Linked DNA regions of Homo sapiens: all the other regions are reported to be linked to region 3. Evidence: microRNA targets listed by miRTarBase, many of them from high-throughput screens and not tested one by one. Region 3 holds a microRNA gene; each other region holds the end of a gene's coding sequence. Distances are between the middles of the regions.
Evidence for each region. The annotated mature microRNA hsa-miR-7704 reads CGGGGUCGGCGGCGACGUG and lies in region 3 at 1,799-1,817, shown strand. An mRNA with a match to its seed (bases 2 to 7 or 8) in the 3' UTR can be bound and repressed. Matches are read on the target gene's strand: a 7mer-m8 pairs with bases 2 to 8, a 7mer-A1 pairs with bases 2 to 7 and ends in A, and an 8mer does both.

Region 1: the mRNA of UBE2S is a reported target of hsa-miR-7704. Seed matches in the 3' UTR shown: 7mer-A1 at 691-697.
Region 2: miRTarBase lists CENPO as a target of hsa-miR-7704. Seed matches in the 3' UTR shown: 7mer-A1 at 857-863.

Annotation. Positions count from the first base shown.
Region 1 is chr19:55,398,007-55,402,100 of GRCh38, reverse strand. It overlaps UBE2S (ubiquitin conjugating enzyme E2 S), which reads left to right. Exons shown (of 4, transcript NM_014501.3): 4 at 339-2,356. The coding sequence ends at 665. It also overlaps a transcript of RPL28 not described here. Among named protein-coding and RNA genes, the nearest start is that of SNORD157, 2.6 kb to the left of the region's middle. RefSeq lists an enhancer at 3,629-3,728.
Region 2 is chr2:24,817,596-24,821,679 of GRCh38, reverse strand. CENPO (centromere protein O) reads right to left here. Exons shown (of 8, transcript NM_001322101.2): 7 at 3,839-4,010; 8 at 1-2,326. The coding sequence ends at 3,874. It overlaps ADCY3 (adenylate cyclase 3), which reads left to right. Exons shown (of 22, transcript NM_004036.5): 20 at 40-163; 21 at 832-956; 22 at 1,566-2,511. The coding sequence ends at 1,748. Among named protein-coding and RNA genes, the nearest start is that of CENPO, 26 kb to the right of the region's middle.
Region 3 is chr2:176,187,045-176,191,138 of GRCh38, forward strand. MIR7704 (microRNA 7704) reads left to right here and starts at 1,799; the gene lies at 1,799-1,857. It overlaps HOXD1 (homeobox D1), which reads left to right and starts at 1,624. Exons shown (of 2, transcript NM_024501.3): 1 at 1,624-2,409; 2 at 2,764-3,863. The coding sequence starts at 1,758. The coding sequence ends at 3,098. It overlaps HAGLR (HOXD antisense growth-associated long non-coding RNA), which reads right to left and starts at 1,914. Exons shown (of 3, transcript NR_033979.2): 1 at 1,770-1,914.

The sequences.
Region 1 (4,094 bases), not on the chromosome of region 3:
CAAGTCTGGGGCTCAGGCAAGTAATGGACTCCTGAGAGGGGGCCTTGGCGTTTCCCCCGTTACCCAGCAAGTTCCACGGAGGACCAGGGACATTTTAAACCATTGGGCCTATGGCATCGTGTCCTTTTGGGAACATCTGCTGTGAGGCAGGTCACATGAAGGTGGCCTCTGAGGGAGACAGGAGCAAAGATGAGGGAGGATGCAGCATAGGTGGGGCCTGGATCTGCAGCTGAGTTGGGAGCAGAAGGAACAGCCAGTGCGGAGGCCACCCTCTTGTGGAGGCCTGGGGGTCCCTGTAGGTTGCCCGACCCACTGTGACCCTGAGCCTCTTCCCACAGACCATCAAGTGCCTGCTGATCCACCCTAACCCCGAGTCTGCACTCAACGAGGAGGCGGGCCGCCTGCTCTTGGAGAACTACGAGGAGTATGCGGCTCGGGCCCGTCTGCTCACAGAGATCCACGGGGGCGCCGGCGGGCCCAGCGGCAGGGCCGAAGCCGGTCGGGCCCTGGCCAGTGGCACTGAAGCTTCCTCCACCGACCCTGGGGCCCCAGGGGGCCCGGGAGGGGCTGAGGGTCCCATGGCCAAGAAGCATGCTGGCGAGCGCGATAAGAAGCTGGCGGCCAAGAAAAAGACGGACAAGAAGCGGGCGCTGCGGCGGCTGTAGTGGGCTCTCTTCCTCCTTCCACCGTGACCCCAACCTCTCCTGTCCCCTCCCTCCAACTCTGTCTCTAAGTTATTTAAATTATGGCTGGGGTCGGGGAGGGTACAGGGGGCACTGGGACCTGGATTTGTTTTTCTAAATAAAGTTGGAAAAGCAGCTTCTGTGTCTCACAGATGCCCCAGGACCGCTGCATGGTGCCATGTGGCTCTGGGAGTTTGGCTCCCCTGCACAGGCCCTGGGTCCTTGTAAAGCCTCATGGACTGCAGCAGTGGGTCCATCTAGCTCACCAGCCTTGCTGTTTGAGGTTTGGGTCCACCTCTTTGTTCTGTGGAGGTAGAGCGGTCACAACCCCTCTTTGGAGTCAGATTTCCAATCTAAAATGGGGCGAGGACCTGGAGCTGCTCCTGGTGGCCTGAGCGGCACTGCCCTATACTTCTCCCTCTAGAATAATGGCCACGTTGGTGTGGCAGTGGTGTTCCTGCTCAGGACGGCCAGGTGCCAGCAGTCTGGCATGAGGCTCGCCTCGTCTGTCTGGTTCTGGACTGGGCCAAGGTTCGGTCCCCTTGAATCATCTGATCCTGCTTTGTGCTAAAGATTGGTTTTTCCCTTGTGGGCAGCAAAGCCTGTTCCCACATGTATTTCTGCACAACAGATCACAAAGCCAGCGGCTTAAAACAACACCCACTTCAGACTTTGTGTTGGAAGTCTGGACACGGCTGAGCTAGTCTCTGCTCAGTGCTTTGCAGGCTAAAATTGAGGTATTGGTTGTTGGTGTTCCTTAGTCTGGGTCCTCTTCCATGCTCATGGTTGTTGGCTGATTTCAGTCCTCGTAGAACTAGGGTCTTAGCTCCAAGAAGCTGCCCCTCCTTGGGCCCTGGCAGGTCTGATTTAAGGGCCCATTCCCTTTGAGGTGCTCACCGGATTAGGTCAGGCCCATCCAGATACTTAAGTGATAATGACTAAATCACAGGGGTAAGATCCCAGCTTAGTCTTAGTTTCTGCCCTCAAGGGGAAGGGATTAACCTGGGTGTGCACACCAGGGGGTGGGGAAACTTCCCATTCTATTAATGCGTTTAGGTTATTTAGACCAATGTCTCATTAATTTTAAAAAAATTAAAAATAGGCCAGGCGCAATGGCTCACGCCTGTAATCCCAACTTTAGGAGGTGAAAGGATCACTTGAGGCCAGGAGTTAAAGACGAACGTGGGCAACACAGTGAGATCCCATCTCTACAAAAAGTAAAATACATTTACAATAAAAATCTACAAGTTCTGACCCATAGGAGAGTGGAAAACTCAAAGGCTGCTTTTGTCCTGAAAGAATTTGCCTATTCTAATAAAACAGCTGAGGTTGAAACGGCTCAGCCTCTGAAAGGGGTCTGACCCTTCCTTGAGCCCTTGCCTCCAGTGACAATCTCCCAAGCTAAGGGAGAAAAGGAACCAAAAGTCTGCACTCCTCTCTACCTCTAGCAGTGCAGGGAGCGAAGGAAAGACAAGGGAAGAAACCCTTCAGATTTTCAGATCAAATTCACATCACTGGCCATCCAAGAAATCTTAAGCTCTGCGTTTATCGTCAACCATTTCTGCATGAGGGAAGCAAACAGTCCTTGCTGAAGGAAGGTGCCTGCATCCTGGGCCTCGGAACCCACTGAAATAATTTAGCGAAGTGCATAATAAAAATAATATTTGCCCTTAGCCCTGACAGAGTTCCTCAATCCCTTGGAATCTCCTGGGTATTAATAGGAGCAGTCTTTGTCCTAATGAAGCCATCTGTGATGGGCCCCTGCGTAGCTTCAGGAAGGGGGTTGGTCACTAGAAATACCAAGACCGAATTAGACAGTTGGGAATTTCAGCCCCACCCATACCTACCAACCTCTGGGAAGAGAGGGGCTGAAGGTTGAGGTCAATGACCAATGGTCAATGATTTGTCTAATATGCCCATGTAATGAAACCTCCGTTAAAACACTAAACAAGGTTGGGTGGGGTGGCTCACGCCTGTAATCCTAGCACTTTGGGAGGCCAAGGCGGGCAGGTCACCTGAGGTCAGGAGTTCAAGACCAGCCTGGCCAACATGGTGAAACCCTGTCTCTACTAAAAATACAAAAATTAGCTGGACGTGGTGGTGCATGTCTGTAATCCCAGCTACTTGGAAGGCTGAGGCAGGAGAATCTCTTGAACCTGGGACACAGAGGTTTCAGTGAGCTGAGATCCTGCCACTGCACTCCAGCCTGGGTGACAGAGCGAGACTCTGTCTCAAAGAAAAGAAAAGAAAAGAAAAGAAAAAAATTAGCCAGGCATGGTAGTGTGCGCCTGTAATCTCAGCTCTTCGGAGGCGGAAGTGTGAGGGTCACTTGAGATGGGCAGGTTGACGCTGCAGTGAGCTATGATCGTACCACTGCACTCCAGCCTGGGTGAGAGAGGGAGACCCTTCCTCAAAACAAACCGGGCACGGTGGTTCACCTGTAATCCCAGCATTTTGGGAGGCCAAGGCTGGTGGACCACTTCACGTTGGGAGTTCAAGAGCAGCCTGCCCAACGTGGCGAAACCTCATCTCAACTAAAAATATAAAAATCAGCCAGGCATTGTGGTGCATGCCCATAGCCTCAGCTATTCAGGAGGCTGAGGCAGGAGAATTGCTTCAACCCAGGAGGCAGAGACTGCAGTGAGCCGAGATTGCACCACCGCACTCCAGTCTGGGCAACAGAGTGAGACTCTGTCTCAACACCCCCGCCACTCCCCTCAACACACGCAACAAAATGTATAAAGAGTTCCTACAAACGAATAAGAAAAAAACATGAAAAATTGGCAAAAACACTTGAACAAGCACTTCACAACACAGGAAATCCAAATGGTTACTCAACACATGTAAAGGTACTCAACATCATTAGTAACTGGAAAAATGCAAATGTAAACCAAGATTGATGCCATTATACTCCTAGAAAAACAACAATTAAATCTGAGAATACCAAGTGTTGGCAAGGTGGCGGAGCACTAGGAACTCCTATAGACTCCAGTTGGAACAGTGAGATGGTAAAGCCCATTTTGAAACTTTGTAGTCAAGTCAAAAGAACTCAACTTATTACTCAACAACCTTTTTGGTTTCGGTTTGGTTTTCATTTACATCGAGGTTCCCTTTGTTTCTATTTCTTCACAACCATCCATGCCGGGGTAACTCCTTCCTGCGTCTCAAGCCCAAATCCCACTCTAGAAATTCACATTCCCATTTCTTTCTTTTTGTTTTTTTGAGACAGAGTTTCGCTGTGTCACCCAGCCTGGGGTGCAATGGCACAATCTCAGCTCATTGCAACCTCTGCCTCACAGGTTTCAAGCGATTTCATGCCTCAGACTCCCGAGTAGCTGGGATTACAGGCGTGTGCCACCAAGCTGGGCTAATTTTTGTATTTTTAGTAGAGACAGGGTTTCACCATGTTGG
Region 2 (4,084 bases), 150 Mb from region 3:
AGCGGCCCCTGACACTTTCTCCACGGTCCCCTGGCACAGGAAGACAAGTCCGAGAGAGAGCGCTGGCAGCACCTGGCTGACCTGGCCGACTTCGCGCTGGCCATGAAGGATACGCTCACCAACATCAACAACCAGTCCTTCAATAACTTCATGCTGCGCATAGGTGAGCACCCCCAGCTGGCCTGCCCCGCAGCAGGCTCCCTTCCCATGCAGGGGCCTGGCCCACCACCAGGAGAGACATGAGGCTCAGGACAACTGAGGCAATTCGGGTGGGGAGGTTCACGCACTCACAGGGCAAGGAGACCTGAAAGACCTTTAGTCCAGACGACTCTAGATGACTAAACCAAAAACCCAGCTGATGTGATGATCCGACTATACTGTGCCTACTGTTACAATAGAAGCTTGGCCTGCCTGGCTGAGAAGTGAGTTTGTGATCCATTTCCAGAGGGGTTGCTGTGCCTGCTGAGGACATGGCTTCCCAGACAGGCCTGCTCTTTGAAAGGAGTTAAGATCACCTGCTGCTTCTACTGAGGGGGTATCATTCCTGAGTGAGGTCCCAGGAGACTTGAAATACCAGCTGTGTTAGAAGCTGGCCACTACCATGCCGAGTAAATCTGCATATGGGGGGGGGGTGGCGGCTGACACCTAACAAGCACACGGATAAACAGGAGATGTGATTTCCACCCTCCAATAGCATACAGCCAAGTTGAATGAGGACAATGATGTGTTACATTAGGAGCTTTGTGGTACAGGTCTGGAGAGGAGATGGCTTCTGAGGCCCATAACAAGGTGTGGCCTGTGGCTGTGCTGAACTTTATGCCTCTACCCTAGGCATGAACAAAGGCGGGGTTCTGGCTGGGGTCATCGGAGCCCGGAAACCACACTACGACATCTGGGGCAATACAGTCAATGTAGCCAGCAGGATGGAGTCCACGGGGGTCATGGGCAACATTCAGGTATGTCCAGTGGCACAGCTGGCACGTGCTCAGACTCGGCATGAGAACAAAACCGGAACAGTGCTTTCCCACGTGCCCCTGCCTCCCACCCTGGCCCTGAACAGTAAGTCCAGAGGCAGAGACGTGGGGCAAGTGGAAAAGAATCTCTGCAATAGCTAGCCTCAGCACAGGAAGAAACACTTCCACCCATCCACAAAATCTGGGCTGAAGTTCTAGATGCATATGGCCTACCTTTGGGTATGAACCTTCTAATACCTTGTGATCTGTCTCAGTGGCGTCTGGCAGAAAAGCTCCACGAAAGGGGCAAAGGGACAGAAGAGCAGGCAGTGGCAGTTTCCAGGTAACAGTGCTGCCACCCAGGTGACCATGGCCATCCTAGGAGAGAAGTCTCTGGATGAGAGGAGGCCCCCAGCCAGTCACTCCAGGGTTCTCCTTCCCACCCGCTGCTCGCCACGGGTGGAAGGGCTTGGCCCTGGGAGGTTTGGGGAGTGTCCCGTACTGCTTGGGACCCATGGATCAGTGCTCGGCTCCAACCACCCAAAGCCCCCACCCGCCCTCAGTCTAGGCTCCCCCCGTAACGCCACGTTCTTGCTCCCCCTCCCTCTCCAGGTGGTAGAAGAAACCCAAGTCATCCTCCGAGAGTACGGCTTCCGCTTTGTGAGGCGAGGCCCCATCTTTGTGAAGGGGAAGGGGGAGCTGCTGACCTTCTTCTTGAAGGGGCGGGATAAGCTAGCCACCTTCCCCAATGGCCCCTCTGTCACACTGCCCCACCAGGTGGTGGACAACTCCTGAATGGCCTCGAGCCTGCAACAGTCCAAACCGGAAGGGAGAATTTATTTTTTGAAACTGAAGGAAGTCCCGACCTTCCTGGATTGAAGTGCACACTCATGGACTTTAGGTTTAGAAACCTCCTCAGCCTTCATTTGTTCGTGGATGTGTGAGCTCTGAGGGTGGCCCTGCTATTCCTGTGTGTGCCTGTAGTGTCCCCAGCATAGGGGTCTTAGGCATAGGGCTGAACAGTCCTTCCAGAGCCCTCGTTCCAATCCCTGCCGTCCTTGCCCCTGAGGGGCCCTGACCACTGTGAGCAGGAGGGTGGCAGAGCTGGGACAAAGCTGCCTTTGCCGCTGGGCTTTCCGGGACTGTGGAGGGAGCACAGGCGGGGAAGCTCCACTTCAGACAGGGCTTGGTGGGGCAGGACATGGCTCCCATTTTGAAGGGAGGTCTCCATGTGGTCCGAGTGAGGTGAGACGGCCCTCGTCCTGGTGTTCCTGATCATCTTGAAAGGTTCTTCTGGAACTCCTGTCCCCTTAGTCATGAGAACAGAAAGTGCAATATTTCCTTTCACCTGGCAGGGGAGGGGGGATTTATTTCTGAAAGAAAAATATATAAACAGATCTTCTACATTTATATTTTTAATCTTCTGTTAAATACACTTTCCGATATTGCCTTGCCTTTTGAGCTCTTGCTACAGTCGCCTTTGCTACTGCTTTAAGAGAATTTACAGGTATTGATAAAGAACAAGACTGTTTTATTAAAAGCTTTATTCAACTTGAAAGTGATTGTGGAAATTCTGTTAATATCACTTATCTGAGGAGTGCTGGTACTTTGCTGACTCATGCCACTGGTCCCCACCACAGGCCTGGAAGGCAAGAGCTTGAAGGTCTCATCATAGCTCACTGTACCCCGGAACGCCTGCTGCCTGGCCCTGTCTCTTTTATTCTTAAACTTTCTTCTAAAGGGTACTCCAAGCTGGCTTTAATCCCCTGCACTGTTCCTGGAGCTCTCCCACACGGAGGTTACTTCGTGGCCATTGCAGGGTTAAGTCTGAACGTGGCCTTGGGCCAGTCATGACTCCTATCTGTGCCTGGGCAAGGGAGGGCTACAGGAGAACCTGGTCAGCCAGACACAGGTTTTCATATCTGTGAGTGACCCACACGCCAAGGAACCAGAGGTGCCAGCAGGTCAGAGGCCCGTGGTTACGGCAAATCAGGACACTAACCGGAGAGCCTGCAGGAGAGGGAAGACCCGGGGGGCGCCTGAGTCCCCCTGAGTTAATGGGCAGATTTCTAACTAACTAACTGTGCTTTTTCAGAGGGGACTTCCTAGTACATTCACAGCTCTACTAAACTTTTAGGAAACAAAATATGAGACACACTGAACTCTGATTATTTTATCCTACTGCTTTCTCACACCATATTTATAAAGCAGTGGCCTAGAATACACTGCGCCTAACCAAACAAACACTGAAGAACTTCCTTTTCAAAAGTTTCAAACAGGAAAATGAGGAAAAATTACTTAAAGCTTTCATAAAAGCTAAAAATACTTTCCTTTTAAAAAAAAAAAAATATTGGGTCTTCCTTATTATCTTCATTAGTGAATGTGGGTTATTTTTCCATTTATTTAGATCAGTGTTTCTCAACAGAATCAAGCTATTGCAGTTTGAGTGGAGTGCTACATTTCTGTGAGAGCCCTTTCTGAAAATTTTAGGATTTTTGGCATCTCTATTCCTGGCATTAAATTAGTAGCAGTTACTGTGACAACTTAATTGCCTGGTCTTTCCCAGAGTTAATGCCCTCAATAATTTGATATTTTTCCATAAGTACTTCTTGAGTGATACACCTTTTTCAAAAAATGGCTTTTATTGCCCCACAAATGATTTTCAACTAAAATGTATGATCAACTAATACCTTTAAAAAACATCTTGAGCATTTTAAGAAGGGACCAGGTGATCATGGGAATTGTTCAAAAATGCCAGTGTCTATACTCAAACCTGCTCTTCCATCCAGATGAACAGGTAGGTGTCTGTTTTCATCAGAAGGGTGATGTACCCTTCATCAGACAGTACTACCCACCTGGTACTGTCTTCAGTACTGGTTACTTACCTCTGATGTGCTCCCAGTGCAGTGAAAACAATCTATTAGGAGACCAGACTCATATCCAACTTTTCTCCTTTTCTTGTAAATGAGGCAAACACTTGATGCAAGGGCTTCGTACAGAACAGAGTTTCATGAGATGCTCGTTGCTCCTCCCATGAAGTGGATAATACTTCCACTCCTAAAAAGAAAGATTCCATCAATCTCATTCAGTGCAGCTGGGGGAATCGGAGCCTGGATCACTGATATTCAATC
Region 3 (4,094 bases):
CCCCTCAACCTGGGGACATCCCTCCCCCATCCTGCAGCAACTTCGGGTCCATCAGTAGTCCACATTTTGGTAGGGCTTTGTTTATTCACAAGTCCACAACCCTGGAAGGAACTGGCTCCCTGGGCTGTGATGGCGCCTATTCTAAAGACTTCCTCAGAGTGGAAATTTAGGCAACAACAGCTCAATCGCTCTTTTATGACAAGTCAATCAGTAAAACAATGATAAAACCTCGGTTACCATAACTTAGAGGCTGTAATAGATTAACTTTTCAAGGGCACTTGATATAAGCTCTGAGTAGACTCTTTAGAGTCTTTATTCACACAGGGTTTTAGGAAACCACCCTCTTTCATAACTACTGTGTGTAAATAACCTCTATTTATCTAATTTGTAATTTTCCTACAGTCCCCTCAAAAGGGAACATTAAAAGAAATACTAAAGGAAGTTGGAAAGTTTGTCAATGTAAAGCTGGTCTTTGTAACCTTTCTACTCTTCATTTCCTGTGGCAATTGCACTTTTATTTCCCGTCTCTCTACACTCAGTAAACAAAACCATATTATCAAGGGAAAGACGTGAGCCCATTAACATTGTGAGCCCTCAGATTTCACTCACAAGAGACGATGCAGCACTTATCTGATGGAGCAGAAGCTCTAATTGCTTCGAGGTACAAGTCCATCTAAACCTCTGAGATCTCACCCGTCCCCGGTAAGCCCTTGCGCCCTCCAGACAAGCTCCTCAGTGAAAGCAAGCGCCGCACCGGTGCCTGTGCCAGTCTCCCAGAAAGGAGCATAAGGAGTGTTCCACCACCACTCTGGATTCTTTATTCCAACAACCCAGCCGGAGGGGAAAATCTGCTAAACCACCCCACAAGGCAGAAACTTTATCAAAATCTGGCACTACAACACTGGCCCTCATCACGCCGCCACAAATTGCGAGGGATAGAAGAAAGCTGCAAAGTCACGTTAAAAGGAAGCCTAGTCAAAAAGTGAAAATTTTGTCCCGCCCTAGGCACACAGCACTCACAGCATAAGATGTAGTTCCATGAGTCCTAGGAAAGGGGGAAGAAAGGAAAAAACCAAACATCTGCTCTAGGTTTAGAAGAGGGATAACATCAGCGCCAAGCAAACCGAAAGCGCAGAGGACTCAGAAGAGGGGAAGAGGAATAACTTTATCTGTCCTGGAGGTGGGCGAAGAGCAGTCTCCACCGGCCGCGCGTCACGCTCCCATTTAACCTTTTCCATGCCGCGACGCCCACACTCCGCCCTCGAGGGACTAGCCCCCCCCACGATCCAGAGCAGAAGCGGCTCGCCCCGCTGCATCCACGGGCCCTCACCCAAGCGTCCAGTCCTGCCTTTCTCCCCCCACCTCGCCCAATACCTGTCCGAGAGCAGGCGTTCTGCCCTCTCGCCCCGCCCTTGCCCAGGCAGCCCCCGGTCGCGACGGCTCTCCTCGGGGCTCGGGGGCGCTGGGCGGCGGCCCTGGGCTGCTTTGGCTAACTTGGCTGCGGGGCAGGCGCGAGGAGCGGCGCGCCGACCGGGCCGAGCGGAGAGGCCGCCCATTGGCCGGCCAGCGCCACGTGGCCGCCCCCGCCGGTATATTAGGCCACTATTTACCTCCGGCTCACTCGCCATGGGTTGGAGAGGGCAGCTCGGGTAGAGAGGGCTGGCGGAGCGGCGCAGACGGCGGCAGTCCTGCTCAGCCTCTGCCCGGCTCCGTACTCCGGCCCCGGCCTGCGCCCTCAGAAAGGTGGGGCCCGAACCATGAGCTCCTACCTGGAGTACGTGTCATGCAGCAGCAGCGGCGGGGTCGGCGGCGACGTGCTCAGCTTGGCACCCAAGTTCTGCCGCTCCGACGCCCGGCCCGTGGCTCTGCAGCCCGCCTTCCCTCTGGGCAACGGCGACGGCGCCTTCGTCAGCTGTCTGCCCCTGGCCGCCGCCCGACCCTCGCCTTCGCCCCCGGCCGCCCCCGCGCGGCCGTCCGTACCGCCTCCGGCCGCGCCCCAGTACGCGCAGTGCACCCTGGAGGGGGCCTACGAACCTGGTGCCGCACCTGCCGCGGCAGCTGGGGGCGCGGACTACGGCTTCCTGGGGTCCGGGCCGGCGTACGACTTCCCGGGCGTGCTGGGGCGGGCGGCCGACGACGGCGGGTCTCACGTCCACTACGCCACCTCGGCCGTCTTCTCGGGCGGCGGCTCTTTCCTCCTCAGCGGCCAGGTGGATTACGCGGCCTTCGGCGAACCCGGCCCTTTTCCGGCTTGTCTCAAAGCGTCAGCCGACGGCCACCCTGGTGCTTTCCAGACCGCATCCCCGGCCCCAGGCACCTACCCCAAGTCCGTCTCTCCCGCCTCCGGCCTCCCTGCCGCCTTCAGCACGTTCGAGTGGATGAAAGTGAAGAGGAATGCCTCTAAGAAAGGTAAGTCCGCGGGCCTTGGATGGGGCCACCTGGGGTTGGGGACGGAGCCTCCCCCGCGGAAATGCGCTGGGAGCGTGGTGTCGCTGCCTTTCCAGACAGCGGTTTGGGTTTTGTGGAGGAGACGCGTTCCCGGGCGAATTCCATGGAGTCTGCCTCGAGTACAGATTCGGAAAATGTGCCAGGCATTGAGAAAATTTCAGGAAGGAGCTCTCCGTGGAACTTCTCCTGGTACAAATTCTGTTCCTAGGGACCCAGGAGGGCTGCGCTGGGACTTTGATTCTAACTAGCTCCACTGCTCACCCACATTCTGTCCCCGGCCTCAGGCCTGGCTGACGCCCTGTCTTTACGTTGCAGGCAAACTCGCCGAGTATGGGGCCGCTAGCCCCTCCAGCGCGATCCGCACGAATTTCAGCACCAAGCAACTGACAGAACTGGAAAAAGAGTTTCATTTCAATAAGTACTTAACTCGAGCCCGGCGCATCGAGATAGCCAACTGCTTGCACCTGAATGACACGCAAGTCAAAATCTGGTTCCAGAACCGCAGGATGAAACAGAAGAAAAGGGAACGAGAAGGGCTTCTGGCCACGGCCATTCCTGTGGCTCCCCTCCAACTTCCCCTCTCTGGAACAACCCCCACTAAGTTTATCAAGAACCCCGGCAGCCCTTCTCAGTCCCAAGAGCCTTCGTGAGGCCGGTACTTGGGGCCGAAAAACTGTGGCCTGCAGAAGTCCCAGGCGACCCCCATCCCTATCTAGACTTAGGAGCTCAGTTTGGGATGGAGGTGGGAGAACAAAAATGAATAGGGATTTCACTTGGGAAATGAAGTACTTTAGTTGGCTTCCGAGTTCCAGACTATATGTCCAGATATTAATTGACTGTCTTGTAAGCCACTTGTTTGGTTATGATTTGTGTCTTATCAGGGAAAAGGTGCCCAGCTGCCAGCCCAGCTCCGCTGCTATCTTTGCCTCACTTAGTCATGTGCAATTCGCGTTGCAGAGTGGCAGACCATTAGTTGCTGAGTTCTGTCAGCACTCTGATGTGCTCAGAAGAGCACCTGCCCAAAGTTTTTCTGGTTTTAATTTAAAGGACAAGGCTACATATATTCAGCTTTTTGAGATGACCAAAGCTAGTTAGGGTCTCCTTGATGTAGCTAAGCTGCTTCAGTGATCTTCACATTTGCACTCCAGTTTTTTTTTCTTTAAAAAAGCGGTTTCTACCTCTCTATGTGCCTGAGTGATGATACAATCGCTGTTTAGTTACTAGATGAACAAATCCACAGAATGGGTAAAGAGTAGAATCTGAACTATATCTTGACAAATATTATTCAAACTTGAATGTAAATATATACAGTATGTATATTTTTTAAAAAGATTTGCTTGCAATGACCTTATAAGTGACATTTAATGTCATAGCATGTAAAGGGTTTTTTTTGTAATAAAAATTATAGAATCTGCTGCTCTCTGCTTTTCTTACACTCTTTAATAATGATTCTCTTTCTTTAAAGTTGATTCAGTTTCCTGTATTTGAATTTTCTTGATTCTGCTATGAGAATTTGTTTATGTTGATAACTTTTTTTTTTTTTTGACACGGAGTCTTGCTCTGTTGCCCAGGCTGGAGTGCAGTGGCACAATTCTGGCTCACCACAACCTCTGCCTCCCAGGTTCAAGTGATTCTCCTGCCTCACC